Linked DNA regions of Homo sapiens. The protein of the gene in region 3 interacts with the protein of the main gene of each other region in a pairwise test. Each region holds a gene or a part of one and is shown on either strand. Other genes may lie near its edges.

Region 1 (8,699 bases), on a different chromosome or scaffold from region 3:
TTGATCTGTGTCTTACCTATGTCTATAACATTCTGTACTAATATAAAGGCATATCTGAGGCTCGGTAATTTATAAAGGAAAGAGGTTTATTTGGCTCATGGTTCTGTAGGCTGTGCAAGAAGCATGGCGCCTGTATCTACTTCTGGTGAAGGCTTCAGAGAGCATCCAATCCTGGTGGAAGGGGAAGGGGGGCTGGCGTGTTACATGGTGAGAGAGAGCAAGAGAGAGAGAAGGGAGGAAAGCACCAGTTTCCTTTTAACAACCAGATCTCAAGTGAACTAATAGAGCAAGAACTCACTCATTACCGCAGGGAAGGCACCAACCCATTCATGAAGGATCCACTCCCATGATCCAAACATCTCCCTCTGGGCCCCACCTCCAACACTGGGGATCACATTTCAACATGAGATTTGGAGGGGACGAATTTCCAAACTATATCAGTCTATTCGAGGAACAGAAGGAAAGCTGTTATTGCTGGATCAGGGTAGGGGAAGCACGGAATGAAATGTGATTGGAGAGATGGACAGAGATCAGATCTTGTGAATTCTGGCAGGTATCATGACATTCGATGTAGGCCAAAGAGTTACCTCCTAGCCCAGCTCCTGATACATGCTTAATAAGCGTAGTGTTGGATAAATAAACGTTTACGTGGTAAAAGTAGATCACAAGAGCTCCACAGGAGGAGGTGGTGGAGCTCCAGGTCTTCTCAATGAATGAAAGAATGGATGAATGTCTTTCTCCTAAGTCATGTATGACCTGTAGAGGCTTCCAGGTCTTCTAATCTTATCCAGTGTGCAACACTGCCTACAAAGCACAGTGGTAACTTCTAACTTTCCTTTCTCCCCAGGCTCTACTACCCGAAGGATAGTGCCCGAAGTTGCTGCTTGGCATAGATGAGCCTCAGCTTCCAGGGCACTGTGGGCCTGTTGGTCTACTAGGGCCCTGATGTCCACCTGGCCTTCCTGTTCTTCACTCCCTTCAGCCACACGCTTCATGGCCTTGAGTTCACCTTGGCTGTCCTAACAGGGCCAATCACCAGTGACCAGCTAGACTGTGATTTTGATAGCGTCATTCAGAAGAAGGCGTCCAAGGAGCTGAAGGTGGTGAAATTTGTCCTGCAGGTCCCTCGGGAGATCCTGGAGCTGGAGCATGAGTGTCTGACAATCAGAAGCATCATGTCCAATGTCCAGATGGCCAGAATGAATGTGATAGTTCAGACCAATGCCTTCCACTGCTCCTTTATGACTGCACTTCTAGCCAGTAGCTCTGCACAAGTTAGCTCTGTAGAAGTAAGAACTTGGGCTTAAATCATGGGCTATCTCTCCACAGCCAAGTGGAGCTCTGAGAATACAACAAGTGCTCAATAAATGCTTGCTGATTGACTGATGGATTAGCTGTGTGTGTGTGTCTTGGTCTGCCACCACCCCTGCTGCGGCCCTTTTCACCCTCTGTGTACCCTTTACTTGTTCCTTTCTTCCCTTCCCCCTTTCCTTTCCATCTTCTTCCATCTATATCTCAGCAATTAAGCATGGTGGTTCCACAGCTGGGTTTGGATCTTACTTCTGTTATCTGCTTACCATGAGAACATGGGCAAGAGCCTTCGCCTCCATGCCCCAGTTCCATCGTCTGTAGAATAGACCATCACGGAGCCTGTATCCTAGAAAGGCTTAAATGAGTTCATGAGTCTCAAGACCTTAGAATAGTTAGTCTGGCACCGACGGAGTTCCAGAGCAATTATTATTCATACAGGCTTTCCAGAATTAAAGCAGGACTGTTATGGGATGAATTGTGTGTCCCACCCCCACCAAAAGATGTGGCCATTGTAACCCCCAGTGCCTGTGAATGTGACCTTGCATGGAAATAAGGTCTTTACCAATGTCATCAAGTGAAGATGAGGTCACTCGTGTGGACCCTAATCCACAATGACTAGTGTCCTTATGAAAAGGAGAGATTTCGCCGGGCGCAGTGGCTCACGCCTGTACTCCCAGCACTTTGGGAGGCCGAGGCAGGTGGATCACAAAGTCAAGAGATTGATACCATCCTGACCAACATGGTGAAACCTCATCTCTACTAAAAATACAAAAATTAGCTGGGCATGGTGGCACACACCTATAGTCCCAGCTACTCGGGAGGCTGAGGCAGGAGAACCGCTTGAACCCAGGAGGTGGAGCTTGCAGTGAGCCAAATCATGCCACTGCACTCCAGCCTGGTGACAGAGTGAAGACTCTGTCTCAAAAAAAAAAAAAAAAAAAAAAAAAAAAGGAAAGAAAAGGGGGGATTTAGGGGAGGGAGAGCATTATGACAAATACCTAATGCATGCAGGGCTTAATACCTAGGTGACGGGTTGATTGGTGCAGCAAACCAGCATGGCACATGTATACCTATGTAATAAACCTGCATGTTCAGCACATGTATCCCAGATTTGAAATAAAATTCTTTTAAAAAAGGGGGGGGGATTTAAAGACAGAGACAGGCATGTATACAGAGAGGAAACCATGTGAACATGGAAGCAGGGATTGGGGTGAGGCTCTACTGACCAAGGGCCGCCAAACTATTGCCAGCAAACCACCAGTCATCCGAAAGAAGACCTTGATAGCAGAAGGATCCTGTTCAGAATTCTGTGTTGCATTCAGTCGTAGCTTTTTTTTTTTTTTTTTTTTTTTTTTGGACAGAGTTTTGCTCTTGTTGCCCAGGCTGGAGTGCAATGGCACGATCTTGGGCTCACTGCAACCTCCGCCTCCTGGGTTTAAGCGATTCTGCTGCCTCAGCCTCCCGAGTAGCAGGGATTACAGGCATGTGCCACCATGCCGGGCTAATTTTTTTGTATTTTTAGTAGAGACGGGGTTTCTCCACGTTGGTTAGGCTGGTCTCGAACTCCTGACCTCAGGTGATCTGCCCACCTCAGCCTCCCAAATTGCTGGGATTACAGGTGTGAGCCATCGCGCCCAGCCTCGGCCATGTCTTCTTAGTCTCCTCCAATCTCGAACGGTTCCTCAATCTTTCCTTGATTTTCATGACCTTGACATTTTTGAAGCTTACAGGCCAGTTATTTTGTAAACCATCCCTCCATGTGGGTTCGTCTGACGTCTGATTATGATGAGATTCAGGAATCTTACAGAAGCGATGCTGTTCTCGTGACATCCTGTCAGGTGGTGTGAAATTCCAACTTGTCACATTACTGATGATGTCCACTTTCATTGACTAAGATGGTGTTTGCCACGTTTCTCCACTATAACGTAACTCCTTTGAAATTGGTATTTTGTAGGGAGGTATTTTGAGCTCTGTAAATATCAAACTTCTCACTTAGCTTTTTATTTATCTGAGTATGGACTCCTGGTTTCTTCTGTGGTCCTGTATAATTTGTTACTATCATTATTTATTTTGACTCTCAAACTGCCCAGTATGGCCAATGGAGCTTCTTCAAGCAGACTCCTGTGTTCTTTCCACATGTTCTCACAACACTTTGAGCAATTTCTTGCTTTAAGCATAGGACGTTTGTAGGCTCATCTTGTTCTTTTTTTGCTCTAGACATGGAATCAGCCAAATTTCCTAGGCACTCTGGTTCCATTTGGTGGAGAATGGTATATAGAAGTCAAGATTTGGATGCTAGTGGTGCTCATTCATATGGGCCATCATTGTTTCTATGTTCTCTTAGTGGAGAGAGCTAGAGAATATGTGTACAAATGTTCCTATACACACTGAAACTATGTGTTTATTTTTATCTCTCTATGTATAATTGAGATCCATGAGGACATACCAACGCCTCCAGTTATAGTCCAACACCACAGGGCTCATTCGACTTTCCTCCTTTCTGTCTTAGTAACTCCCTTTTCCAACAGTAGGAGACCTGGCCCCCATTCCCCTTACTCACTGTGTGTAGCCAATTTCCCTTTTCCTTTGCCATTTCACCCCTGTGGGGATGTCTTTCCCAGCCTAGTCTGGCTTCAACACCATACACCATGCTATTCCCATGAGTGGACATTTCTCTCTCTGCTTGGGTTATGACAACCCATGCCAGATCCCCTCTATGTGGCCTCCTTCCTAATTGCCTTACAGTGCAAACCTCCACCCCAGACAATGCCTGCATATAAATGCCCCCGCCCCACTCAGCTCATGTTCCAACACTGCACACCAAGCTGCCCATCTGTGGATTTATCCCCACCATCTCCAGCCCCAACACCCTGGGTCATGCTGCCCCTCTATGTGGACTTCTCCTCACCCCACTACCCCACTGGAATGCTGGCTCTCCACGCCAGATGGCCCCCAGCCCCCTCCTCCCCTAACCCTACCTAGTGTGGAGTCGCAAAACCCCTTTGGGCTTTGACACCACCATAACTTCACACCCTCCCTGACACCCCCACCTTGCTTTTTCCCTCTAAATCATTCAGGAAAGACAGAAGGAAAGAGATGAACAGAGGAAGAGCAAATGCCATGCTCTTAGTCACCGTGTACGCCCACTTCCTGAAGTCCATGCTTGCATCCTGCTCACTCTCACACATTCCCGACTCACCCAGGAAAACTCCCTGAGGCCAGGGGTGCTGAGCTCTCCATCTCACTGCCCAGAGGCCAGTGTTGGAGTGACCCTTCACATGCTTGTTGGAACATTGAATAAATGATGCCGTCTGCTCTAATCCTCCATTTTCTTTTCTTTTTTTTCTTTTTTTTTCTTTTTTTCGAGACAGGGTCTCACTATGTCAGCCAGGCTGGAGTACAATGGTGCAATCGTAGTTCACTGCAGCCTGGAGTGCAATGGTACAATCATAGCTCACTGCAGCCTTGAACTCCTGGGCTCAAGCAATCCTCCCATCTCTGCCTTTGGAGCAGCTGGGACTACAGGTGTGTGCCACCATGCACGGCTAATTTTTTTATTTTTTGTAAAGACAGCCTCTCCGTATGTTGCTCAGCTGGTCTCAAACTCCTGGGCTCAAGCAATCCTCCCACCTCAGCCTCCCAAAGCGCTGGGACTACAGACATGAGCACCACATCCAGCCTCTAATCCCCATTTATAAAATGCACTTTCCAATTCCACTCTGGGGATAAAGGCGTCACAGAACCTGACTCTGCATTTCCCCACCCATATCATTCAAGCCAGATGGGGAGGCAGGGACAGCTCTGGTCCCTCCCCAACCCGGGTAGAGATTTCCAGCCCAGCTGTCACAGCTCTAAGACACCGGGACCGAAGGAGAAGCCAAGAGAGGCAGGAAGAGGTGGCAAAGGAGTGCTGGAGAAGATAAGGAGGCTGAGCTCCGACAGGGAGCAGGGAGGAGGGGCCATCTTGAGACTGGTGCCCTGCGAGCTCCACCCCACCCCTCCATGCAGTTCCCCATGGGCCCCGCCTGCATCTTCTTGAGGAAAGGCATTGCTGAGAAACAGCGGGTGAGGTGGGGAGTGAGGGGGAAGGGCGGTGGGCGGGGCAAAGGGAGCAGGGGTGTGGGACAAAGAAGGGGACATGATGGTGCCACAGAACCAGGGGAACAGGTGGATAGAGCAGGAGCTGAGAAGGTATAAGAAATTCCAAGGACCCTGGTGGGGTCATGTAAGCCAGTGAGATAAATGGGTGGGGGTAAAATCAAAAGTCAGGAGCAAAGAGAAGGAGAGAAAAGGAAGAAAAATGAAAAGGGAAAGTGGGATGATGTCATTGTTGAGATTACCATCATTCTTTTCTATGGATGCTCATTGTGATAATGGTGGTGATGATGGTGGTGGTGGTGATGATAATGATGACGTTAATAACAATAGCTGCCACTTATTAAGTCATTGTTCTGTGCCCAGCCCTGTGCAAAGGGATTTGCACACCTGATGTTATTTACACCTCAGAACAACTCATGAGGTCAGTGACTTTCATTCCCATTTTACAGGTGAGGAAAGTGAAGCTCTGAGTCATGAAGTCATTTGCCTTAAGCTTACACAGTTAGTAAGTGGCAGGGTCGGCCAAGTATAGTGGCTCATGCCTGAATCGCAGCATCTTGGGAGGCAGAGGCGGGAGGATCACTTATGTCCAGGAGTTTGAGACCAGCCTGGGAAACACAAGACCCCATCTCTACTAAAAATACAAAAAAATAGCTCAGCATGGTGGCATGCATCTGCAGTCCCAGCTACTCAGGTGGCTGAGGCAGGAGGATCGCTTGAGCCCAGGAAGTGGAGGCTGCAGTGAGCCCTGATTATGCCACTGCACTCCAGCCTGGGCAACAAAGTGAGACTTTGTCTCGTTAAAAAAAAGTAAGTGGCAGGGTCGGGTTTGCTTGATTCCTGTGGGCATGCTTTTTAAAATTTTTTTATTTTTCCATATATACCAACTTGTCCAGATATGTGGGCATACTTTTCATTGTTAGGCTTTAAGATCACCAAAAAAAGAGAATAAAAAAGGCCAGGCAGTGGCTCACGCCTGTGATCCCAGCCCTTTGGGAGGCCAAAGCAGGTGGATCACGAGGTCAGGAGGTCAAGACCAGCCTGGCCAAGATGGTGAAACCCTGTCTCTATTAGAAATACAAAAATTAGCCGGGTGCAGTGGCAGGCGCCTGTAATCCCAGCTACTCGGGAGGCTGAGGCAGGAGAATCGCTTGAACCCGGGAGGCAGAGGTTGCAGTGAGCCGAGTTCGTGCCACTGCACTCCAGCTTGGGTGACAGAGCGAGACTGTGTCTCAAAAAAAAAAAAGAGAGAGAGAATGAAAAAAAGGGTGATAAGGGACCGCAAGGAGGGGATCAGATGAAAGAGAAGCTGAGGGAAAGGCTCCAGGGATAAAGGGAGATGGGAAGGCTAAAGAGACCAGAGGTCAGTAGAATTTCCTTGTTAACATGCCATGTATATGTAAGCCCAACCCTTCAGGTATGTGCAGGAGTAGGTGGGGCAGCAATAACTGGACATTCTCAGAGTGTTTAGGAACTGGTCATGCTGGCACTGACCCTCCTGCCTGAAAGCCATTGAATGCTGTTTCCATGCACAGAGATTCTAACCTTTGGCAGGAAGATTGGAGGCAGGTGAGAAAGGAGTGAATGGGGGCTAGTGTGAAGAATTCTGACTTGGGAGTCAGGAGCCCTGAATTCAAATCCCAATACTGTGTCTGACTTGCCCCATGACCTCCAGGGAGCAGGTGAATGCCTTCCTCCCTTGGGAGGGGATCTGCTGCTTGTGAGCTGTGTGACCTTGTGCAGGTTCCTTAACCTCTCTGTTCCTCAGCTTTCTCATGGGTAAGATGGAAACGAGATGTAGATCTGCATCACAGAGCAGTACTGAGGTTTAAATGAAATGATTGTGGAAACTGCCTGGCACAGAGTCACCACTCTGAATGAGTTAGCTGTGGTTGTGAAGTCTCACTTTTTTCATCTGGAGATTGGACTCCCCAGTGTTTAAGACCCCCTTTGACACAATGTGATGGGTGTTTGTCTCAGAAAGGGAGAAAAAGGGAGATTGGGATTCGTGGGTGGGAGAGAGACATCGAGAGGGGGGTGGGGAGCCAAGAACTGTGGAACAGGAGTCAGGAGATGGGAAAAGGAATGGGAGGGATGGAGGAGGAGAGAGAGAATGGAAAGAGAACCACGAGAGCGTGGGGAGGAGCTTGGGAGAACAAGGAGACCCTTTGGAGAATGGGTGACCCTCTCTCCAAATTCCCTCTCATCTGCATTCCTTTCCAGGAAAGACCACTGGGACAAGATGAGATTGAAGGTAACACCGTCTTCCCCAGTTGCTTCCACGTTGCCATCCACCCACCTGACCTGCCCTCAGTCCCTTTGTGCATTTCCGTATAAATTCCATTACATGGAATTTTTACAATCCCTCTCTCTTCCCACTCAACTGTAATTTTGTAGAACTCTTTCTCGTGGCAGTTGAAGGACTTCCCAAAGTATTTCGAAGGCATATCCATCCTCAAGTATCTCCAAGACTCAGGAGTGAAAACAAATGAGTTTCTCTCTTGGTGACTTTGAGGTTCCCCATAACTTCATCCAGGAATCTGAAGGACGCCAGTGCTCTCATTTAGTGGTCTCAGGAATGATGCCTCTTTTGCTAACACATTTCATACATCACTCCTTTTTGAATTTTTTTTTCTTTTTTGAGACAGAGTTTTGCTCTTGTTGCCAGGCTGGAGTGCAATGGCACGATCTCCTCTCACTGCTACCTCCGCCTCCCAGGTTCAAGCGATTCTTCTGCCTTGGCTGAGGCAGCCTCCCTAGTAGCTGGGATCAAAGGCATGAGCCACCATGCCCAGCTAATTTTTTTGTATTTAGTAGAGATGGGGTTCTGCCATGTTGGTCAGTCTGGCCTCAAACTCCTCACCTCAGGTGATCCACCCACCTCGACCTCCCAAAGTGCTGGGATTACAGCCATGAGCCACCACATCCGGCCTTGGTTTTTTTGTTTTGTTTTGTTTTGTTTCTAATGTACGCTCCTTTAAGGAGTCTCTAGTTGGAGCCTCATTGATAGCTTCAAGAGATGCCACTCTTCCCCACTGACTGCTTCAAGTTCCCCCAAAGTTCTCTCTTAACTTTCAGAGCTGCGGGAAGCATTTCTTGAGTTCGATAAGGACCGAGATGGGTTCATCTCTTGTAAGGATCTGGGGAATCTCATGAGGACGATGGGTTACATGCCCACGGAGATGGAACTGATTGAGCTCGGCCAGCAAATCCGCATGAACCGTGAGTCCAGGGAATGGGAGGGATGGCCGGGGTTAGGGAAGGGATCAGGGCAGAATTGGGAAGGATGT
Region 2 (7,987 bases), on a different chromosome or scaffold from region 3:
GTTTCACCATCTTGGCTAGGCTGGTCTTGAACTCCTGACCTCCTGATCCACCTACCTCAGCCTCCCAAAGTGCTGGGATTACAGTCGTGAGCCACCGTGCCCAGCCATCATCCCAGGTCTTTAGAGGACTAAAATCATGTTCATCTTTGAGAACTGCCTAGACAGCAAAGAACCTGCTGGCCTCTAAGCAGTAGGATTTCTAGCCATCAGGAAAGGAATAGGAATTTGCTCGTTGAGTTTAATTTTGTGCTTAAAAATATATGGCCTTGGCTTGGTGCCGTGGCTCATGCCTGTAATCCTAGCACTTTGGGAGGCTGAGGAGGACGGATCACCTGAGGTTGGGAGTTCGAGACCAGCCTGACCAACATGGAAAAACCCCCTCTCTACTAAAAATACAAAATTAGCCAGGCGTGGTGGCGCATGCCTGTAATCCCAGCTACTCGGGAGACAGAGGCAGAACTGCTTGAAACCAGGAGGTGGAGGTTGTGGTGAGCCGAGATCATGCCATTGCACTCCAGCCTGGGCAACAAGAGCGAAACTCTGTCTCAAACAAACAAAAAAAGGCCTTGGACAGATATATGCTCTATTACTGAAAAAAGAGATGTGAAAACAAACTCAGGTTCTCTGCTAACGCCAAGATATTCCTCAGCAGCTAGTCTGCCAAGGGTAGAGCACTAGCAAAAGCACTTTCACTCAGCGTTTAGATTTCAGAATAGCAAGACAGAAAACAGACTTTTGTCTCCAGGCCTGGAAAGTGGTAATTAAGTGGATTCAGATCTGGCTTGTGAGATACTTACTTTCGAATGAAGACTGGCTTAAGGCGAGGCTCCATCTCATCTTCACTGTCTGTGTACTCTTCATACTCAGACTCTGATTCTGACTCCTCTCCAGAACGACCCTCATCTTCCACTTCCATGACTTCCATCTCTTCATTTTTTCTCTCCTGTGCTCGCTGACGCATCATGCCACGCCGCCGCTCTATTTCCTATCAAGTCATATATATAAGCCAGTCAGTCAAATGGCCTATGGCTTTTTGTTCGTCTCATCAAACACAACAAATTCAAATGTAAAAAGATACAACTTAGTATCATTCTATTTTTAATCCTATCCCCACAAACAAGGAACATGATCAGAGTCCTGCCAAAGCAGTGATCTCATGTTTTTAAGGCTTCAACAAATGAGCACTGGCATGAACTTTTTCTTATATCCAGAAAAAAACTTCCCATGTTCCTTTATCATACCTCATCATCAATTTCCTCCTCCTCTTCTTCACTGCTGTCTTCTCGTTCCATGCGCCAAGCATCTCCTTCTACTTCTGAGTCACTCTCTCCTACCACTTCAGGTTCCACTATTTTTCGATGTCGAGCCAATCTGAAAAACAGTATCTCCAAATGTAACACCAATGTCATAAAAATGAAGTAGCATCAACTGCATTTCCATAGCCACAGAGCACATTATGTTTGCCTTCATTAATACTGAAGTTTTTTTTTTTTTGAGGCAGGGTCTTGCTCTGTCGCCCAGGCTGCAGTGCAGTGGTGCGATCTTGGCTCACTGCCACCTCTGCCTCCCAGACTCAAGTGATCCTCCCACCTCAGCCTCCTGAGTAGCTGGGACTATAGGCGTGCCACCACACCTGGCTAATATTTGTATTTTTTGTAGAGACGGGGTTTTACCATGTTGCCCAGGCTGGTCTTGAACTCCTGGACTTAGGCAATCTGCCCACCTCAGCCTCTCAAAGTGCTGGGATTATAGGTGTGAGCCACCATGTCCATCCAGTATTAAAGTATTGAGGTGGAGGAAACTGAGGTGCAGATTAAAGAAACTAAACTAGGATGTCAGAGCGAATAGTCAAGTTGGGCCTGAAATACTAAATGTATGTTGAGGCATCCTGGGGCACCACAGCAAGCCAGCAAACTCATAGGGATGCATTGGGATTTTTTTTTTTTTGAGACAGAATCTCACTCTGTCACCCAGGCTGAAGTGCAAGGGCATGATCTTGGCTCACCACAACCTCCACCTCCCAGGTTCAAGTGATAATCCCTGCCTCAGCCTCCCGAGTAGCTGGGATTACAGGCATGCACCACCACACCCAGCTAATTTTTTTATTTTTAGTAGAGATGGAGTTTCGCCATATTGGCCAGGCTAGTCTTGAACTCCTGACCTCAGGTGATCCGCCTGCCTAGGCCTCCCAAAGTGCTGGGATTACAGGCATGAGTCACTGAGCCTGGCCTGCATTGGAATATTTTTAATAGCTCAAGATAATTCACTTTCAACATTAAGTCACACTACATTCCTTTCGAGAATATCGTGTCTTTGTGAAACTGGGTTTTGGTGGCTGCTGTGATAAAAAGTAAAAGAAAGTATAGTATGAAAATCAATATAAAACAAGACATGAAAAAGTGACAGTGCTGATTCCAAGGTTTGAAAGGCTGTCAGTGTCCAACAGGCAAACAAATTCCACTAGTAACTATGGTTATGTGAGAATGAATAAAAGTGTTTTTTCCCCCCTGGGCACTGTAATTTTATTTTTTTTTCTTTTTTCTTTTCTTTTTTTTTTTTTGAGATGGAGTCTCGCTTTGTCACCCAGGCTGGAGTGCAGTGGCGTGATCTCGGCTCACTGCAATCTCTGCCTGCCAGGTTCAAGCAATTCTCTGCCTCAGCCTCCCAAGTAGCTGGGATTACAGGTGCCCGCCACCAGGCCTGGCTAATTTTTTTGTATTTTTAGTAGAGATGGGGTTTTACCAAGTTGGCCAGGCTGGTCTTGAACTCCTGACCTCGTGATCCACCCGCCTCAGCCTCCCAAAGTGCTAGGATTACAGGCGTGAGCCACCGCACCTGGCCATGGGCACTGTTAATCTTCAAGTGGCAAAGTTATTAGGACATAAATACTTATTAAGTTACTTGGCTCTAACTACTTAATAACTAAAATAAACAGAACTGTTTTGGCCCAGGAGCTCTGTGAAAAAACTCCTGGGACAATTATGAACGGTGAAAGTTCAGGACTCCTGGCCTACTCTATAAAGTAATGTCTCCATCAATATATAACATACAAAATCCCTCACTGGGAGGCTCTCTTTCTACCATGAGACCTTTATAAGGTCTTTTCTCCTACTTCAGTGTCATTTCCCCTTATTAGCATTTAGAATAAGTAGATGTATAAAATCAATTTACCAAAGTTTATAAAACATCTTTGTGCTAAAAAGACTCCTCTCAACAGCCAACAAATGGTCTGTGTTTTCTATTCCCATAAGGAGTTGAGTAGGTCCTTTAGGCCAGAAGTAACCTGCTGTTTCCTGAAGCTGCCACTTTGTAGCTTTGGTCATGTAACTTTCTTAGCCCCTTTGTGCTCTTAGTTTCCTCCTTTTGTGAAATGGGGATAATAGCACCTATTTCATAAAGTTATTGTATGGATTACAAGAATTAGCAAATGTAATCTACTTGGTAGTACTATTCAAGTATTAGCTATTATTATTATTATTAAGCTGTAGAGGTTCATGTTCAAGTAAACACAATCACAGACATTACCTCTCTTCCACATCTTCACTAATACGGTTCTGTAAACGCCGTAGCCGGGGGTCACTGGATGAATCCTCCTCCTGTTCCTCAGGCTCTGCTTCTTGTTCTTTGGCTTTCTTAATGAACTGAAATTCTTCATCCTCCTCATCTGAGGACTCCATAGGGGCATAGTCTGGCCTTTTTCCGGACACATAACGCTTTACCTTCACTTTTTCCATTGAAATCTCACCTGGGCGAGAAAGGTAACTTATGTTTCAGTAGCCTCTTTCTCAATGTGCTTCAACCCATCACGGCCTTTGCAAATAGAGCCCTTTATTCATAGTAGACAAGAGTCTAAGCAGAAGAAGAAGAGAGCCACTACCCAACCATCTACTCTTCTAATGGTGTTTTCCTACAAAGGCCAAGTCATGAGACTGCATCCTTGTGAAAGCCAACACTGATGATAATGAGGCTTACCTTGAGTACAATGAAGTAGAGGAAGGTAGGCAGTGAAACAGTAGAAAAAAGTCCCCCCCCAAAAAGGCAGACTGCATCCATCACAAATTCATGGTATCCCACCTCAACTATACCCTTAAACAAATTATTTGTAACAGTGCCCAGCACATAGTAAGGGTAATTTCTGCAGGAACATAAAACTGCTCAGGCATTCTTGTAGTTCCCTCTGGAATTTCCATGGCAGCCTTTATAACATACTGCCACATGACTCAATATTCTAATCTTACCTATTTCTACCTTCTTTTCCTTTACCTTATGTGTTATCAAACATGCAAGAGTATGTAATCTCTTACAAATACAATTCTTTTTTTTTTTTTTTTTTTGAGACGGAGTCTCGCTCTGTCGCCCAGGCTGGAGTGCAGTGGCGTGGTCTCGGCTCACTGCAACCTCCGCCTCCCGGGTTCAAGTGATTCTTCTGCCTCAGCTTCCTGAGTAGCTGGGACTACAGACGCATGCCACCATGCCCAGCTAATTTTTTGTATTTTTAGTAGAGATGGGGTTTCACCGTATTAGCCATGATGGTCTCGATCTCCTGACCTCATGATCCGCCCACCTCAGCCTCCCAAAGTGCTGGGATTACAGGCGTGAGCCACAGCACCCAGCCTACAAATACAAACAATTCTAGTGAACAAAGACAGTGAAAACTAACCAACTTATTTTATGAGTATAACCTTGATAACCAAATTGGACAGTTCAAAGGAAAACTTTAGGTGGATTTCACTTACAAACACAAATACAAAAATACTAAATAACGTAAGAGCAAATTTATCCCAGCAATATAAAAACTACCAAAAAAAAAAAAAGAAACAAAAAAAAAAAACCCCTAGACCAACACAACTTATTAGAATTTAGCCCAAGACTAGAAGGATAGTTTGACCTTAGAAAATTAATGAGGGGGCCAGGTGCAGTGGCTCATGCCTATAATCGCAGCATTTTGGAAGGTTGAGGCAGGAGGATTGCTTAAACCCAGGAGTTCGAGACCAGCCTGGGTTTAGACCTCATCTCTACTAAAAACAAAAAAAATTACCCGGACATAGTGGTATATGCCTGTGGTCCCAAGCTACATGGGAGGCTGAGGTGGGAGAATCACTGGAGCCCAGGAGGTTGAGGCTGCGGCAAGCCATGACCACACCAAGGCACTCACTTTAGCCTGAGTGATAGAGTGAGACCCTGTGTCAAACACAAAAATATATATAGCTGGGCACAGTGGCTCATGCTTGTAATCCCAGCACTTTGGAAAGCCAAGGTGGGCAGATCAGTTGAGGCTAGGAGTTCGAGACCAGCCTGCCCAACATGGCAAAACTCCGTCTCTACTAAAAATACAAAAATTAGCCAGACATGGTGGCACAGACTTTTTAATCCAAGCTACTCAGGTGGCTGAGGCAGGAGAATAACTTGAACCTGGAAGGTGGAGGTTGCAGTGAGCTGAGATCGTGCTACTGCACTCCAGCCTGGGCAACACAGTAAGACTCTGTCTTTAAAAACAAAACAAAACAAAACAAAATTCCAAAAAAAAATGTACATAGATAGATAGATGAACAATGGGAGGGAAGCAATATACTATTTTTACTTTTTAAAATTTTATTTTTGTTTGTTATTTTTTAAAAGGTAGAGAAAGGGTCTTGCTATGTTGCCCAAGCTGGCCTTGGACTCCTGGCCTCAAGTGATCCTCCAGCCTCAGTCTCCCAAAGTGCTAGGATTACAGGTGTGAGCCATCTCTCCTAGCCTACTATTTTTTAAAGTCACATTTTTAAAAAATAATAGATACAGCAGACTTTATACTTAATGATAAAACAATAGAAACATTCTATTTATTTATTTATTTATTTTTTTTGAGATGGAGTCTCGCTCTGTTGCCCAGGCTGCAGTGCAGTGGCATGATCTCCGCTCACTGCAACCTCCGCCCCCTGGGTTCAAGCAATTCTCCCTGCCTCAGGCTCCTGAGTAGCTGGGATTACAGGTGCCCACCACCATGCCTGGCTAATTTGTGTATTTTTTAGTAAAGACAGGGTTTCAACATGTAGGCCAGGCTGGTCTTGAACTCCTGACCTCAGGTGATCTGCCAGCCTCAGTATCATAAAGTGCTGGGATTTCAGGTGTGAGCCACTGTGACTGGCCAGAAGCATTCTCTTTAAAAATCAGTGGGCATCCAGCTGGGTGTGGTGGCTCACGCCTGTAATCCCAGCACTCTGGGAGGCCAAGGCGGACGGATCACAACGTCAGGAAATTGAGAACATCCTGGCTAACACAGTGAAACCCCATCTCCACTAAAAAGACAAAAAAATTAGCCAGGCATGGTGGCGAGTGCCTGTAGTCCCAGCTACTTGGGAGGCTGAGGCAGGAGAATGGCGTGAACCCGGGACACAGAGCTTGCAGTGAGCGAGATAGCACCACTGCACTCCAGCTTGGGCAAGAGAGCGAGACTCCGTCTCAAAAAAACAAAAAACCAAAAAATTAGCCGGGTGTGGTGGCACGCACCTGTAGTCCCAGCTACTCAAGAGGCTGAGGCAGGAGAATGGTGTGAACCCAGGGGCGGAGCTTGCAGTGAGCCGAGATCGCGCCACTGCACTCCAGCCTAGGCGACAGGGTAAGACTCCATCTCAAAAAAAACAAACAACAACAACAAAAAAAACCAGTGAGCATCCTAATGTTGTACCTATCACACCTTCTAGTCAACACTGTATTATGGTTCTAATTTGGGCAATAAGGAAAAGTTATAAGGATTTAAAAGGAAGAAACTGCCATAATTTGCAGATTATATGGTTGTCTTTGTAGAAAACACAAGATAACAAATAGATAAAAGAGTTCAGAAAAAATGCTAGATAAAAAACTTATTTATAAAAATAAGCATACCTGTACATTAGCTACATATAATTAGAAAGTACAATTTTATTTTTATTTATTTTCTTGAGACAGGGTCTCACTCTGTTGCCTAGGGTGGAGTGCGGTGGCGCAATCATGGCTCACCGCAGCGTCAGCCTCCTAGGCTCAAACCATTCTCCTGCCTCAGCCTCCCAAGTAGCTGGGACTACAGGCGTGCAACACCATGCCGGTCTAATTTTTAAAATTTTTTTGTACAGACGAGGTCTCACTATGCTGCCCATGCTGGTCTTGAACTCCTGGACTCAAGTGATCCTCTTGCCTAGGGCCTCCCAAAGTGCTGGGATTACAGGCGTGAGCCACCATGCCTGGCTTATTTTCTACTGTTTGAGAAAGGGTCTCATTCTGTTACCCAGGCTGGTGTGCAGTGGCATGATCACAGCTCACTGCAGTCTCAACCTCCTGGGCTAAAGTGAGCCTCCCTCTTCAGCCTCTCAGTAGCTGGGACTACAGACAGGTACCACCCAGGTAATTTTGTTTTTTTGTAGAGCACTGTATTTTTTGGGGTCTCGCTATGTTGCCCAGGCTGAAGAAAATATAGTTTTAAAATACCATTAACGGTCACAAGTAATCTATAAGATACTGTGGAATAAATCCAACAAACAATGTACAAGGCTTTTAGGAGGAAAAATATGTAATTTTATTGAAAGATAAAAAAGATGTAAATAGAGAAATATTTCATGTTCAAGGATGAGAAGATGGCAACTGCACCTGAATTAACCTATAAATGTATAATCTATCATTTTAATGCAATTCCATTAAAAGTTGTCTCCAGGCTTATTCCAAAATCATATGGAAGAACAGGAGGCCCCAAAATGCCAAGACAATGCTGAAGAAGAATAAAGCTGATGGGGGCGGGGAAGGAGGGGTGGGGCATAGTTTACCAGATATGTCAGTGACCCAGGAAGTACACAGAGATCAATGTAACAGAGAAAAGAAAAACAAACTTATATGAGAACTCGAGTATATTATAGGGATGGCATTAAAAATCAGTAGAAAATGGATGGGGTGAGAAGGGACAATTGGCCAACCATATAGTAAAATTAGACCTCTAACTTCCACCACAGACACAAAAATTCCAGATGGATTAAAGACG
Region 3 (7,940 bases):
GCAAGATTTACCAATAACCAATGGTTGCTTGAAGACAAAAGAGTTTGTTGGAACTTGCTGAATAAATTGATGTGCCATCAGTGTATTTTTTACATCATACATGCTGAAAAAAATCTGTCCTTGATTCTGTGCAAAGGAAGATGCTGAAATTGGTGTGCATATGCAGGGAAAGTCAAGATGCAGATGGAAACTGGGATTATTTTGTTAACTCAAAAACCAATTGGCAGGGTGCGGTGGCTCACGCCTGTAATCCCAGCACTCTGGGAGGCCGAGGTGGGCAGATCACCTGAGGTCAGTAGTTCGAGACCAGCCTGGCCAACATGGTGATACCTCGTCTCTACTTAAAATACAAAATTAGCCCCCATGGTGGCGCATGCCTGTAATCCCAGCTACTTGGGAGGCTGAGGCAGGAGAATCACTTGAACCCGGGAGGCAGAGGTTCCAGTGAGCAGAGATTGCGCCATTCCACTCTAGTCTGGGCAACAAGAGTAAAAACTCCATCTCAAAAAACAAACAAACAACCCCCCAAAAAAGCCAATTAAATTGTTTCATAGTCACATTTCTAGATCCAAACTTTTAGGACAATTTTTTTCTCTAGTGATTATGTATAGCAGCAAGAGCAGACAAAAATATTATAAATTAAAAATAAGTTAGTACAACAACCTTACATCTGCTTCTGAAAATATTGTGCATCTTCTTTAAACAGTACACAAAAAGCTTCAGTCAGTGAAATTGCTTAATGAAATGCCAGTACCATCCAAAGAATTTTTAAGGCCAAGAATTAAATAGGAAGAATTTCTTGTCTTAATATATTCCTATTCAAGGAAGGAACATTTAATAAGTTGGTGGTAATATTACCATATTAAAGCAGAGAGGTAGCCTTGCTTTCTATGGAGCTCAGTTGGAAGTCTTATTTAGTAATACAAATGTCCCTGTTAAATGGCCATAGGAGCATCTGACAGAAATTGTTGTTCTTGCCTTATAACATCAAACTTGAAAACTTTACTACTTTTTTTTTGGAGATGGGATGTCAGTCTGTCGCCCAGGCTGGAGTGCAGTGGTATTATTACAGCTCACTGCAGCTTCAACCTCCCTGGCTCAAGTGATCTTACCTCAGCCTCCCGAGTAACTGGGTCGACAGGTGTGCATTACCATTTCAGGCTAATTTTTGTATTTTTTTATGGAGACAGGGTCCCACCAGGTTGCCCTGACTGGCCTTGAATTCTTGGGCTCCAACAATCTACCCACCTCGGCCTCCCACTGTGCTCGGCTACTACATTTTTTTTTTTCTTTTTTGAGATGGAGTTTCACTCTTGTTTCCCAGGCTGGAGTGCAATGGTGCAATCTCCGCTCACTGCAACCTCCTCCTCCTAGGTTCAAGTGATTCTCCTACCTCAGCCTCCTGAGTAGCTAGGATTATAGGCACCCACGACCACGCCCGGCTAGTTTTTCTATTTTTAGTAGAGATGGGGTTTCACCGTGTTGTTCAGGCTGGTCTCCAACTCCTGACCTTAGGCGATCCACCCACCTCGGCCTCCCAAAGTGCTGGGATTATAGGCGTGAGTCACCGTGCCCGGCTTCTCGGCTACTACATTTTAAATAATAAAATTATACAACAGAATTTTCTTTCCAAGAAAATTCAGATTATTATTTTTTTGTAATCTACTCATATTGTGAGTCAGAGAATGGCAATTTTCATTATTAAGCATTCACCATCTGACAAATATGTATATTCAGGTAAATCCCAAATTACGGACTGCATATGTAGCCACAGGCGAAAAGTAACTTAGTCTGCTCAAGAGCAGTTGCCCCAACAGGATAGTTCTCATACTTTTGTGATTTACAGATAGTTATACTGTTATGGGCATTGACTTGATTCATGTGTTGAAATACAGGTTTAGCAGGGTTTGATTCATACATGTTTGAAATGAAGACTTCCTGGAAAACCAGGGTCATGTGCTTATCCTATCACCACACACATGAAACCGCCCCAACAGGGTTCACAAAAATTGCATGCAGGTTCTGGACAGAAATATAGTTATAATTAAGCATTAATCAGGCTGCACTTCGGCCTACTTCCTTGTTGCTAATAGTCACAAGGCACTAGATACTGACATTTGCATCTCTATTGTTCCTATAGATAGGATTTCAGACATCAGACTAAGAATTGATTTGCATCCCTGTTGTTCCTGTAGACAGGATCTCTGACATTAGAATCATAAGGCTTTTGTTTAAGGATCGCTTAAGATGTTTTTCAGACCACGAGTTCCGGTGAAACAGTTGAGTTCAACCAGTTTGAAGACCCCCCACAGAGGAATGGGATGAGCATGAGAATGTAGTTTCTTCATCTCCTTGTACCACGATTTCACCAGCACTCTCCCACCAATCAGTCAACTCCATTACCCTTACAAACTCTAACCCCAAATTCCCAAATTCCTAGCAGAGATGGATGTGAGGCTTCTTCCTGTCTCCTCCTTAGGTGGCCCTATGATTAGACCTCTTTCTCTGCTGCAACCTGGTGTCTCTGCATATAGACTTGCTATGTGCATTGGGCAAGGAACCTACTGCTGTTACACACACTCTGTTGACTTAAAACACAACCTCACCAGAAAACACTTTGTTCTCGCAGGTCCTTTTTTTTTTTTTTTTTTTTTAAGATGGAGTCTAGCTCTGTCGCCCAGGGTGGAGTGCAGTGCTGCCATCTCTGCTCACTGCAACCTCCGCCTCCTGGGTTCCAGCGATTCTCTTGCCTCAGCCTCCGGAGCAGCTGGAATATCAGGTGCACGACACCACGCCCGGCTAATTTTTGTATTTTTTAGTAGAGACGGGGTTTCACCATGTTGGCCAGGCTGGTCTGGAACTCAGGTGATCTGCCCGCCTCGGCCTCCCAAAGTGCTGGAATTACAGGCGTGAGCCACTGCGCTCGGCCTGTTCTCGCAGGTCCTTTTGCTCAGACGCAGCAAACCGTAACCCCAAGCTCGATCTCTGCTGCTCTCAGGAATTCCACTTCCTCCAGCTTGGGCAACATAGCGAGACCCTGTCTCTACAGAAAAATAAATAAGTAAATAAATAAATACAAATAAATAAAACATTAGCCGGGCTTGGTAGCTGCGCCTGTAGTCCAAGATGCTCGGGCAGGCTGAGGGGAAGGATCGTTTGAGCCCAGCAGTTTAAGGCTGCAGTGAGCCTTGTTTGTGCCACTTGCACTCCAGCCTGGACGACAGAGGGAGACTGTCTCTAAATAAATCAATAAATAAGGCCGGGCGCAATGGCTCACGCTTGTAATCCTAGCACTTTGGGAGGCCAAGGCGGGTGGATCATTTGAGGTCAGGAGTTTCAGACCAGCCTGGCCAACATGGTGAAACCCCGTCTCCACTTAAAAAAAAAAAAATTAGCTGGGCATGGTGGTACATGCCTGTAATCCCAGCTACTTGGGAGGCAAAGGCAGGAGAATCGGTTGAACCCGGAAGGCGGTTGCAGTGAGCCGAGATCCCGCCACTGCACTCCAGCCTGGGCGACGGAGTGAGACTCCGTCTCTAAATAAATAAATAAACAAAAATTAAGAATCCTATTTCCAGACCAGGCCCCGGAGAGTCAATAATCCGAGATGTGAAGGAGACCTTAAAATATTATTGATCCCAACACAGGCCGCGTGGGACCTGAACCGCCTCACCTTGGCAACCACATTTGTAATTTCCGCAAATGATCTATATCTTCTTCATTCCAAAATTGTGCCTCTCCGTCACTCATTCCACCCATAGGCTCCCTTCAGCCGTGTCCCCCTTACTCTCACCCTGCACATTTCCGCTGTTCTAAATACGGCTGCCCTTCAGCAGAAGCTGTTGCCTGCAGACGGCGCCTGCGTATCGAGCCTCCGTGAAGAAAATCACTCCCCAGAATGAGCCCGGCTTTGCGGCTGGGTCCTAAACTGCGGTGAGCTGAACCTTCTCGTGGGAATGTGAGAAAGCGGAACACACGTGGGCCCCAAATAACAACCCTCCCCACACCGAAGCCCAAGAGCTGGGGGGGAGGGGCGGAGGCGACGCGGGGGGCGCTGGCCGCAGGGGCCGGCAGGGGGCGCGCTGGCCGCGGTGGCTGGGCAGCGCGAGCCTGCGGCGCGTCTAGGCCCGCGCGGTTCCCGGTGCACTCGCTGCCCACAAAGCGCCAGCTGAGGGGCCGCTGCGGGTGGAGTGCGGCGGAGTCGGCCTCGCGACCCCAGCTTGATCCGCCGCCTGCTGCACCGCGCCTCCGCCGCGTTCCTGCGCGTCCCGAGCCCCGACGGCCGCGTGAGTCCCGTCCGTGCGGGGAAGGCAGGGCCGGGTCGGCGCCGCCTGTGGAGAGGACCCGGCGGCCGGGCCTGCTTGGAGCCGGGCGCGGTGGCAGCGGCGGCAGCGGCGGCGACTTCCGAGGCCCGGGCTAGACAGCGCAGGGCCATGGCTGAGGCGGCCCCGGCCCCGGTAAGGGCGGCCGCGCGCGAGTGTTGTGAGCCCCCGAGACCCAGACCCCGAGGGAGGAAGGCGGGCGGGCAGGGAGCTGCCAGGCATAGGCGCCGTTCTCGGGTCCCGCCGGCCACGTCGCCTGTCGCCCGTGCTTGGCGGCTGCAGCCTCGCGTGAGGGGACTTAGCGGGTGGGTGTGAAACCGCCCACCCGGGGACACCAGGCTGGGCCGCAGGTCTGAGGGGCACTCGCAGGCAGCTATGAGACCCGGGGCCCTGCAGTTGGGTTGAAGTCGAGGGGGTGCCTGCTGCGTGTCAGCCCCACGCCTGCCCGCCAGACGCGCAGCGGGGTTGGGCTGGGGAGCCGTCAGCCATTCTCGCGGCCGCGGGAGCGTTCGTCACCAGCAATCTGAGCGGTGGCGCGGGCGGCATTTAAGTGTGCGGAGGCGCATTCCCGCCGCGCTGCGTGACGCCTGGGCTCCCGGCACCGGACTCGGGACACGCGGGAGGCCCTCCCGAAATAGCTGCCGAATGAATGGTGCGGACCCGGAGGCTGGAGTGGCCTCGCGTGCGTGGCGGTTCATTCGCGGGTGTTTGCCAAGGCCTGCGGGGGCCGGCAGCGGCCAGTTGCCAGGGCGACCGAGGCGACCGGGCCGCGCCTGCACGCAGCCCCGTAGAATGAGAAGGGGACGGTCAGGCCGCGGGGAAAGCACTGATCGCATTTGCCACCCAAGAGGTCTTTGGTCACCTCTAGGAGAGCAATTGTACTGGGTCAGGAGCCACCCTGGCACATGAGGGGTGACTGGGAAAAGGAGGAAGAGCAGCGATGGGTAGGGGGTAGAGCAGAGGGAAGTGCCACCTCCACTCTTGGACCTGTTTTTCTTTTTTCCAACCTTTTTTTTTGTGTATAGGTGGGATGGTAGCGATGATCCTGTGTTGTGCCAGTCCTGGCTAATAGAAATATAAGGGAAGCCGCATACAAAACTCTAAATCAAGCTTGTCCAACCCGCGGCCCCCAGGCCGCATGCGGACTAGGACTGCTTTAAATGCGGCCCAACACAAATTCGTAAACTTTCCTAGAACATCATGAGATTTATGCACGGACCTTTTTCTTTGTCTTTTTTTTTTTTTTTTTTTTTTTTTTTTAGCTCATCAGCTATCATGATCAGTATTTTATGTGTGACCCAAGACAGTTCTTCCAGTGTGGCCCAGGGAAGCCAAAAGATTGGACACCCCTGCTTAAATTCTCTAGGCGTCACGTTTAAAAAGTAAAAAGCCAGGCGCTGTGTTGTGCACGCCTGTAGTCCCAGCTAGGCCGGGGGCTGAGGCGGAAGAATCACTTGAGTCCAGGAGTTCGAGGCAGTCCACACCGCGTCTCTAAAATAAAAAAAATTTTTGAGAAGTTAAAAAATAAATAGATGAAATTAATTTTAATTATATATCTAACTCAATATATGCAAAATATTATTTCAACATGTCATCAATTTATTTATTTATTTATTTTTTGAGGTGGAGTCTCACTCTGTCCCTCAGGCTGGAGTGCAGTGGCGCCATCTGGGCTCACTGCAACTTCTGCCTTGCCGGTTCAAGCGATTCTCCTGCCTCAGCCTCCCGAGTAGCTGGGACTACAGGCGCGTGCCACTACGCCCGGGTCCTTTTGTATTTTTAGTAGAGAGGGGGGTTTCACCGTGTTTGCCGGGATGGTCTCAATCTCCTGACCTCGTGATCCGCCCGCTGGGATCCAAAGTGCTGGGATTACAGGCGTGAGCCACCGCGCCCGGCCTCATGTAATCGATTTAAAACATTAATGGCCGGGTGTGGTGGCTCAAGCCTGTTATCCCAAGCACTTCAGGAGGCTGCCGTGGGAAGACAGCTTTAGCCCAGGAGTTGAAGACCAGCCTGGGCAACATAGGAAGACCCCATCTCTACAAAAAAAATTTTTTTTTTTAAATTAGCCAGGCGTGGTGGCATGCACTTGTACTCCCAGCTACTCAGGAGGTGGGAGGTGTTTGAGCCAGGGAGGTGGAGGCTGCAGTGAGCTGTGATCCTGCCACTGCCCTCCAACCTGGGCAACAAAGTGAAACCCTGTCTCAAGCAAACAAACAAATATTTTTTTCATACTAAGTCTTCAAAGTCTCGTGTATTTTATACTCATAGCACATCTCAATTTAACCACATTTCAGGTGCTCAGTGGCCACATGTAGGTAGTGGCTACTGTATTGAACAGTGCCAGTCCACCCTATGGAGAAGAATCAGGAGACAGATTGACACTAAGAAAGGAACAACCTACCCAAAAAGGTGGAAGGGGTTGGCATAAGTGAAGCAAATGTGGAGAGTTAAGATTTAAATAGGATGCAACTTCCTTAGGAAGTAAAGAAGAAAACTTAGATTCGGTTACTGATAAGTTTGAAGCAAGGAGTATGAAGAGAAAGTTGAATGAATTTAGGTCTGATTAATTTCCATCTCAAAGCAAGAGGACATGTCATCTTCTGAGAGTGGGGGCTGCAGCAGACAAGTCTTACTACTCAGTGTCAGCATCACCTGGGAATTTGTTAAAAATACAAAATCTCAGGCTGTGTACCATGGCTCACACCTGTAATCCCAGCACTTTGGGAGGCTGAGGCAGGTGGATCACTTGAGCTGAGTAGTTTGAGACCAGCCTAGGCAATATGGTGAAACCCTGTCTCTACCAAAAATACAAAAATTAGCAGGGCATGGTGGTGTGTGCCTGTGGTCCCGGCTACTCGGGAGGCTGAGATGGGAGAATCGCTTGAGCCCATGAGATGGAGGTTGCGGTAAGCTGAGATTACACCACTGCACTCCAGCCTGGGTGACAGTGAGACCTCATCCCAAAAAAACAAAAACAAAACCCAACAGAATCTCAGTTTTCCTTACAGACCTACTGAATAAAAATCTGTACTTTGACAAGATCTCCAGGTGATTCTTCCCCGCCTCCCGCGCCCCCCCGCCTCCCCTCCTGCCCTAGACAGAGTCTTGCTCTGTCACCATGCTGGAGTGCAGTGGCACGATTTCAGCTCACTGCAACTTCCGCCTCCTGGGTTCAAGTGATTCTCTAGCCTCAGTCTCCCGAGTAGCTGGGATTACATGGCTTGCCACCACACCCAGCTAATTTTTGTATTTTTTAGTAGAGATAGGGTTTCACCATGCTGGTCAGGCTGGTCTCAAACTCCTGACCTCAGGTGATCCACCTGTCTCAGCCTTGCAAAGTGCTGGGATTACAGGCATGAGCCACTGTGCCTGGCCCCTCCAGCTGATTCTTATTCATGTTAGTTTGAGGACAAACTGTACTAAAAGCTGAAGGACTGTGCTGAGGCTTTGTAGTAGCCACTTTATGGAATGGGACAAGCGGCATGGAGGGCACAAGTCAGTGTTGAGATCCCCACTAAGCTTAGAAACCATTGGTATGTGGTGACAGCAGTTTACCTGGTGATTTCCTCTAGGCACGCTTACTAATCTGCTTACAGGAATGGAGAAAGAATGATT
Region 4 (7,388 bases), on a different chromosome or scaffold from region 3:
GCCTGGCATATTTCACTTAATGTCCATCAGTTCCATCCATGTTGTCACAAGTAACAGGATTTAATTTTTTATGGCTAATATTCCACTGTGTATACAGACCACCTTTTCTTTATCCATTCATTTGTTGATAGACACTTAGGTTGATTCCATATCTTGGCTACTGTGAATGCTGCTGCAATGAACATGGGAGTACAGATTATCTCTTCAACATACTCATTTTCTTCAGATATTAATATATACTTAGTAGTGGGATTGCTAGATGCTATAGGTAGTTCTATTTTCACTTTTTGAGGAACCTCTACTGTTTTCCATAATGGCTGTGCTACTTTACATTCCCAACAGTGTGCAAGGGTCTCCTTTTCTGCATATCCTTGCCAACACTTCTTTCATCTTTTTGATAAGTCATTCAACAGGTATCAGGTATTACCATTATCTCATTGTGGTTTTAATTTGCATTTCCCTGATGATTAGTGATCTTGGACATTTCTTCATATACCTGTCAGCCATGTGTATGTTTCCTTCTGAGACATGTCAATTCAGGTCAAGTCATTCCTTCTAACAGTAATTGGACAGCAAAGCCAAATTATATTAAGGCACTTCCCAGTAACATTAAGCCATATCTTCAACACTTGGAAGAATGTTTTCTGAGCCTTCGTGCGGTAAATCCAAAAGGGAGTTTTGTTCACTGCTCTAACCTACTGCCTAGAACAATGCCTGGCACATAGCAGGCACTCACAGTTGTTGAATTATTAGGCAAAATATGCATAATATCTTTATTATCTTAGCAGAGGGGGTAAATCCTCAAGTCACAATATACAGAGAACAGAAAGTAAGTTGTAAAATATTTTTTATTGTAAAAACAAAGTCAATAAAGGTTGACAATGTAAATGTTATCTCACAACATTTCCCCTTGGTTCCTGAATTTGCTAGATTCCTATGTACCAGCAAATCTCCATTAGCATTTCTCAGGTTTCATGATCCTTTTCAGATATGTTGGTTGATTTTATGTATATATTGCTTAGAAACAAAAATCCACCTGATATTAAAACAAACCAAAAAAAATCATAAAAGCAAGCAAATGAACAAAAAACCCTAGTTTTGTTGTGCTTTTCTTTCACATTTCCTACAGGGAGATTTGTATATCTCAGATACTTTCAAAATCTAATAGGTAAGTAAAATTAGTGCCTTAACCAAACAGTAAGATACCAAAGAATCCTCCATCACAAGTTACTGAATCAAACTTCTCATGACATTTGCGGTATATTCAGATTTGAAGATTTTTTAAATTTAGAATTTAAAACAAACTTTAGACTGCTGATTTTCCATATTTCAAAGACTGTAGTTGTTTGCAGCATATAAATGGAAAGAGTAGTGCAAAACGCATCAAGTTTTATATGATAAATATATACTTTCAACCTAATGGCTGCCTCAAAAGTAAAGAGTGAACAATTACTTCTCAAAATAAATCTAGATTGACTTAAAGTTCACAATTTAGAAATAGCAATTGCTACTCTATTTCCATAGATTGCAAAATGATTTCAAATACAGATTATACATACAATTGTTTTACAAAAATAGAAATATTGTTTGGGATTTTACAAAACTTTATAAAATATAACACTATATTTGCAAATTCAAGATAGTTTCACACTGAAATAGACAATACTTCCACGATATGAAGTCTAGCCAAACTTAAAGTGGTCTGCCTTGAGGCCATTCTTACATATTATTTCTTCCAAATCTTCAAGCCTAGGTAAATCTGTGCTCTAACACAGGCTTTGTAAAAAAGAGACTGTTTATTTTCAAGGGTTTTATAAGATTTTCAATCCAGAAATAATGTTAAAGCATAAGAATTTATACCTAAAAAATATGTCTTACTAAAGGTAGAAGCTAATGCAGTATGACAATTCTGTATAACTGATAAATTTCAAACCAAATTCCTAAGAATGACAACTTTTATTAATTTAAAATATATATTTGACAATTATAATTTGGGACCTATATAAAACAAAAATATAATCACAACTATTTTATGGAAAAATATTTATTCATATAGAGTGAAAATACCTCCAAACTTAGTTATTTGTAGCTGTCAGATGAGAAGTATTTCCTAATTACACCCATTCATAAACACTCATTTTATCACTTCAAAGAGCACCAGTGTATTTTTTCAACAAACCAGAAAGTAAGAAGGTAGGGGCTTATTTCATGTAACAGTGCTATTATGATAAGGCACCACTAGGTATATGAAAAAGCCAAAGTATTTCCAAATCATGTGTTTTTGTTACTGGTGTCTTAACCATTAGACAGGATGGTTAGAAAAAAGCTGCTAACATTATTAATGAACCACATTATAGCCCCTTTCCCACCATTCTGTGCTTTTAGTTTTACTTATAACAGAAATGAAAACAACAACGTAGTACATGACCTGTTAAAACAAACATCTTTTCCCAACCTTCCAAGAAAATAACCTAAAAATAAACAAGAAACAAAAAATTTATCTGATATATTTGCAAAAGCCTATCCCTGTAGAAGAGTGTGAGGAGTGGGAGAAGGCAGGGGGACCTACTTTCTATGGAATATATTGAGGCACATAGGTTACAAGTTTCTCAGGCAAATTCATGGCTAGAACAAAACAGAGAGAGAGCTCAGAATCTTACATTTCCCCCAAAGTTGATTTCTCAGATAGCCACACCTGATTAAATACTCCCAAATGTGTCCTTAGTCACTGCTATCATCATCGTCATCATCATCAGACATATCATTTAAAGGAGACTTCAATGACTGGCTGTAAGAGTCTGATCTAGCAGGCTGGCATGTGGCCATGTCCCCAGCAGAAAGCAGGTCATAGCAGAAGTCACAAATCCGCACAGGCTTAGAGGACTGGCTGGGAAGAAGAAATCTCTTTTCAGAGCAGGGCCCACAGACAACAAAACCACATTTGCGGCAATGGTGGCGACGATTAACAGGTGTGAATTTTGCTTTCTGACAACGCATACATACAGTTGCCTCAGAGTCAGGAACCCAGACAGCAGCATGTTCATTACTGGGTGTCTTCCCACTTTTGGAGAGTAAATCAGTAACACATTTATTTATATGATTCATCCATTCTGATTTCTCCGTAGCAGTGGCAGCATAAACTGCAAAAGATTTAGTTGGTGTCTTGATTAGCCATCCATTCCTTAAGTCTCCCTCATCTTTGATGGAATCAATAGTGACATTTTCCAGGGGAATAATATGTTGTTTGTTATATTTTTTCTTCTGGATGACAATATTGCCATATACAAGAATATCATTAAACAAGAAAAACTGCCTTGCTTTGGGCTTTTTCCTGCACAACTTAGTCAATACTCCTTCTCCAATAAGAACTCGTCCAGGTATAGTTAAAGGTTGACCAGCTGCTCCAAAACAGTTTTCCACTATACTTATACGTCTAGTATTTGCTTCACTGTTTGCCAAGCGATCCACCATCTTTCACTAATAGCCTTTTAAAAAAAAGAAAAAGAAATTAGCACATATAAATTATAAATTCCTATAAGTTAATTATATATAAATTAAGCTAACAAATCATTGCTTTTACACAAAGGCAAAATGTTCTAAAATTCTTTCCCTCTAAGATAATCACTAAGCACATCAAAAGGGCTAACATTTCTCAATTTTTAAAATGATGAAAAACACTTATTTATCATCTCCACGTAGCACCATACTAGTTAAGCAGGTATTTGTAAAAGTATAAACTTCCTACAGACATAATTGAATGAAAGACGATTGGATAATTAACATAACTTATCTCTGCAAAATAATAAACCCCATTCAATGAAATGTAATCTCAATGGGATTCTGAACAATAGGGAACAAAATGTTACATAAACTAAGAAAAATGACTACAATTTTCCAAGTAAGCTATTACCACTGAGCTACAGCCTTAATTCTCTCACCTGGATTACTAGAACTGTTTCCCAACATGTGTCCTGGCCTTCAATCTTGCCCCCAAATCAATCTTTGGGCAGTGATCTCTAAAACCCTAATTTGACCCCATCATTGCTCAAAATGATCCCTTAACCTATTAAATACAGGGTGTTCACGGCCTTTCATTACTTGGTTCTTGTCACTCCAACCTCACCATAAGTCAGTCTTCACCTCAAATGTCATATTCTAAGAACACTCTACTACTTGTAGTCCATTTCACTGTTGTTCCTTTTACTACTTACTACTGCAGCTAACTCATATTCATCCTTCGAGACTTAGTTTAGGTAATCGTGTCTCCTCCAGGAAGCCTCCTTTAAACTCCCATGCTAGACTAAAACCCTTCCTGTGAGCTATCCATATTCCATGTATATTCTAGCTTCACTTTTACCAAAGGACTGAAATCTGTTCCTCCAGAGACCATGCAGAACCTAAAAAGCAGAGATCATCTGATAGTTTTGTTTGAAACTGATACGGTTTGACACAGAAAAGGTACTAAAAAATGTTAATAACATTTTAACAATGTGCAAAACACCCTATTAATCTAAACATTTAATCTCTAAGTCCAATATTGACTTCACTCAAGTCCCAGAGTTGTATCCTATTTCAAACCTACTAAACTAATACTACTATACTATAACCAAGTCATATTAAAGAACAACAAGCCTTGAGAAGAAGACCATTTAAAGTTTAAAGACTAACAGCATAGTATGTAAGTTCCAGTATTCAGCTCAAAAACTGACACTATAGCCCTTCTTGGCCTTCATTATAAAGGACACTAGAATTCTGGTTATTTCTGAATTCTGTCTCCCTGCAAATCTTGGGTCCTTATAAAGCCCTCTTGTCCTCCACAAAAGTAGGATGTAGCAGGCCTAAAAGTTGTTCCCAAGAATTAATAGGATAATGCATGGTTCCAAACTGGAAAGGTTTCTAATTAGGACTAATATGCCAGCCAATTAAAAGCCTACTATCCTATGCACAAGTACATCACAGAAAAGGAAATAAAAACGGCTAATAAACAGGAAAAGAGGTTTCAATCTCTATCATAATTAAAGAAATTATATTAAACATTAGTATATTTTTCACTTAGATTAATAAAAATTTTTAAATTTACTAAGATTCAGTACTCATAAAGGTATAGGGAAATAGGTACCCTTGTACACTACAGAGAATATGTGTATTCACCAATCTAATTAAATAAATTTCACTCACGTGCATAGAGATATATACAAGGATAATCAGCACAGCATTGTTTATAACAGGAAAACAATTGGAAAAGCTCCAAATAGCCATCAAGAGGAACTGATTGAAAAAGTTATGACACACCCTTAATCATATATCTTGAGAATAAGACAGATCTAAAACCAGTGACAAGGGAAATGCTCAAGATCTTTAGGTGGGGAAAAGAGATGAACTTCCTGATCTCATTTTTATTTCAAATAAATACCACATTTCATCACATCTAAGGTGCTATAGATTTTAAGACATATTTATGTGCAACTCATAAAGAGAAAAATGTTGCCAATTAAACCACAGCATACCGTTGATTATAAGACCAATTTCAAATACATATAGTAAAAAATGTTTATCTTTAGACTCAATGGAATACATATTTCAAAAGCATAATCATAGACATCTGTATCTGTAAGCACACACACAACATAAAGTTAAAAAATATATACTATACTATCAACAATGGTAATTTATCTCTGGAAAGTATAATTATGGATCATTTTTTCATACTTTACATTATATTCAAGCATTCCACAAGTATTTGTCAGGCACTTAGGATCTAGGTGCAGGAAAAGTAAAAATAAACACCACAGGCGATCATACTTGAGTATGTGACAACAGATAAAAATTTTAAAAAATAATAAATTAAACAATACAGGCAAGGTCCCTGCTCTTCAGGGTTTACATTCTAGTTGGAGAGAAGGAAAGAGAAAACAAAATTGAAATCTAGTACTAATCAATGCTATGATTTTTTTTTTAAAGTGATTTTTAAAAGAAACTGAGAGCTATTCAGACTACATGGTCAGGAAAGGCCTTTCTACAATGTTGTCATTTCAGCTGTACTAGATGGACAGACATAAGAAGGGGTAAGGATAGGGGAGAATATTCCAGACAAAAGGAGTAACTGCAAAGGCCCTAAAACAGGAAAAGACATTGGCACTTTAAAAAAAAAACTGAAAGGATCTATTTCTCTCCACCTGAATCAACTACTGAGTCCACCCATTTGAACATATCGTTATTAACTCATATACAACACAAACAGATTTCCTATTATTGCTACTATGAGAATTAATACTATCATAAATTTGTACTGTGCTTTTCATATTATTTTCTGATTTGAACTGTTTGAAATGCCTATGAAGTTACTAGAGAAGTTTTTATTGTCCCCCAAAGAAGCATCTAATAATATTAGCTGAACTGTGAGCTGATGAAGAAATTAAGGCACAAAGATATTTAATAATGTAAAAGCAAAACTTAACCTGGAATGAACTCTACTCATAGGGAGTCCAACCAATGTGCTGAGCACTTTGCACTTATTACTGTATTTCCTCCTCACAGCAACCTTATGATACATGCACTATTAGCTCCATTTTATGGATGAGTAAACAGCCAAAGAGGGGTTAAATAACTTGCCCAAGGCTGTCACAGCAGAACAAGCCTCAAATCTGATTTCTCTGTGATGTTACAGTATGTTATGGTACACTAATTGTTCCTAAGAACTCCACTGAATCTACAAGAACTCTAAGGAAGCTATTAACTAACCTCTGGACCTTCATTGCAAACCCTAAAAATACTGAAGATAAGGGAATACTACCTTGAACAAATCACCTGAAAGGATGGATATGTCATGATTTACCCAGCTGGTGTCTTGATAATCTTTCATTGTCCAAATGTTTCAATATATTAAGTCTAAATCTTTGTTCATAAATCTTTCTCCCTGTTTAATAATGATGCAACTTAAGCAAGGTTTGGGGCATTATTAATTAGTATTTGGCTGCAGCAAAGCAAATAGCTTTCAAAGTTTGACAATGACCAACATAAACACATTTTATATTGCAAGGTTACAAACACTCGTATAATTATTTCAACAATGAATGATGCATTCTTTTATCTTCATTTATTTTAATGATTCTGGCAGCCCACTTGATTGATTGGTGGGTTGTGACATATATCTGAAAAACTATGGGCATGCACAAAACCTAAGGCCTTTGGCCTTAAGCAGCCTCTTCCATTATCCTTTTTGGTCCTGAATATTTTCTGTATGTGTCAGACATAAAAAAGATGGTAAGCAATGAACTAAAAAACCCAGGAATACATAAATGCTGCCCTGCACACACACACAAACACATATAAGAGAGAGAAAGAGAGAATGGTGGTAGGGAAACAGGAGGCAGCAAGGAAAGAAAGGA

What was found.
Region 1: the proteins of ZNF398 (region 3) and CABP5 interact in binary tests that used the Homo sapiens proteins (3 or more experiments, as listed by UniProt).
Region 2: the proteins of ZNF398 (region 3) and MFAP1 interact in binary tests that used the Homo sapiens proteins (3 or more experiments, as listed by UniProt).
Region 4: the proteins of ZNF398 (region 3) and PLEKHF2 interact in binary tests that used the Homo sapiens proteins (3 or more experiments, as listed by UniProt).

What each region holds. Positions count from the first base shown.
Region 1 is NC_000019.10:48,040,537-48,049,235, reverse strand, and holds the start of CABP5 (calcium-binding protein 5), read left to right. Parts: upstream 1-5,156; 5' UTR 5,157-5,313; coding exon 5,314-5,376; intron 5,377-7,632; coding exon 7,633-7,663; intron 7,664-8,487; coding exon 8,488-8,631; intron 8,632-8,699. Other genes in the region: PLA2G4C (cytosolic phospholipase A2 gamma isoform 2 precursor), read left to right, coding at 848-893. UniProt on the Homo sapiens protein: Inhibits calcium-dependent inactivation of L-type calcium channel and shifts voltage dependence of activation to more depolarized membrane potentials. Involved in the transmission of light signals.
Region 2 is NC_000015.10:43,813,704-43,821,690, forward strand, and holds part of MFAP1 (microfibrillar-associated protein 1), read right to left. Parts: intron 3,746-7,987; coding exon 3,526-3,745; intron 1,372-3,525; coding exon 1,242-1,371; intron 986-1,241; coding exon 798-985; intron 1-797. UniProt on the Homo sapiens protein: Involved in pre-mRNA splicing as a component of the spliceosome.
Region 3 is NC_000007.14:149,143,310-149,151,249, forward strand, and holds the start of ZNF398 (zinc finger protein 398), read left to right. Parts: upstream 1-4,143; 5' UTR 4,144-4,433; coding exon 4,434-4,457; exon of another isoform or gene 4,458-4,971; coding exon of another isoform or gene 4,972-4,974; intron 4,975-5,102; exon of another isoform or gene 5,103-5,207; intron 5,208-7,665; exon of another isoform or gene 7,666-7,934; coding exon of another isoform or gene 7,935-7,940. UniProt on the Homo sapiens protein: Functions as a transcriptional activator.
Region 4 is NC_000008.11:95,150,128-95,157,515, reverse strand, and holds the end of PLEKHF2 (pleckstrin homology domain-containing family F member 2), read right to left. Parts: intron 3,486-7,388; 5' UTR 3,472-3,485; coding exon 2,722-3,471; 3' UTR 831-2,721; downstream 1-830. UniProt on the Homo sapiens protein: May play a role in early endosome fusion upstream of RAB5, hence regulating receptor trafficking and fluid-phase transport. Enhances cellular sensitivity to TNF-induced apoptosis.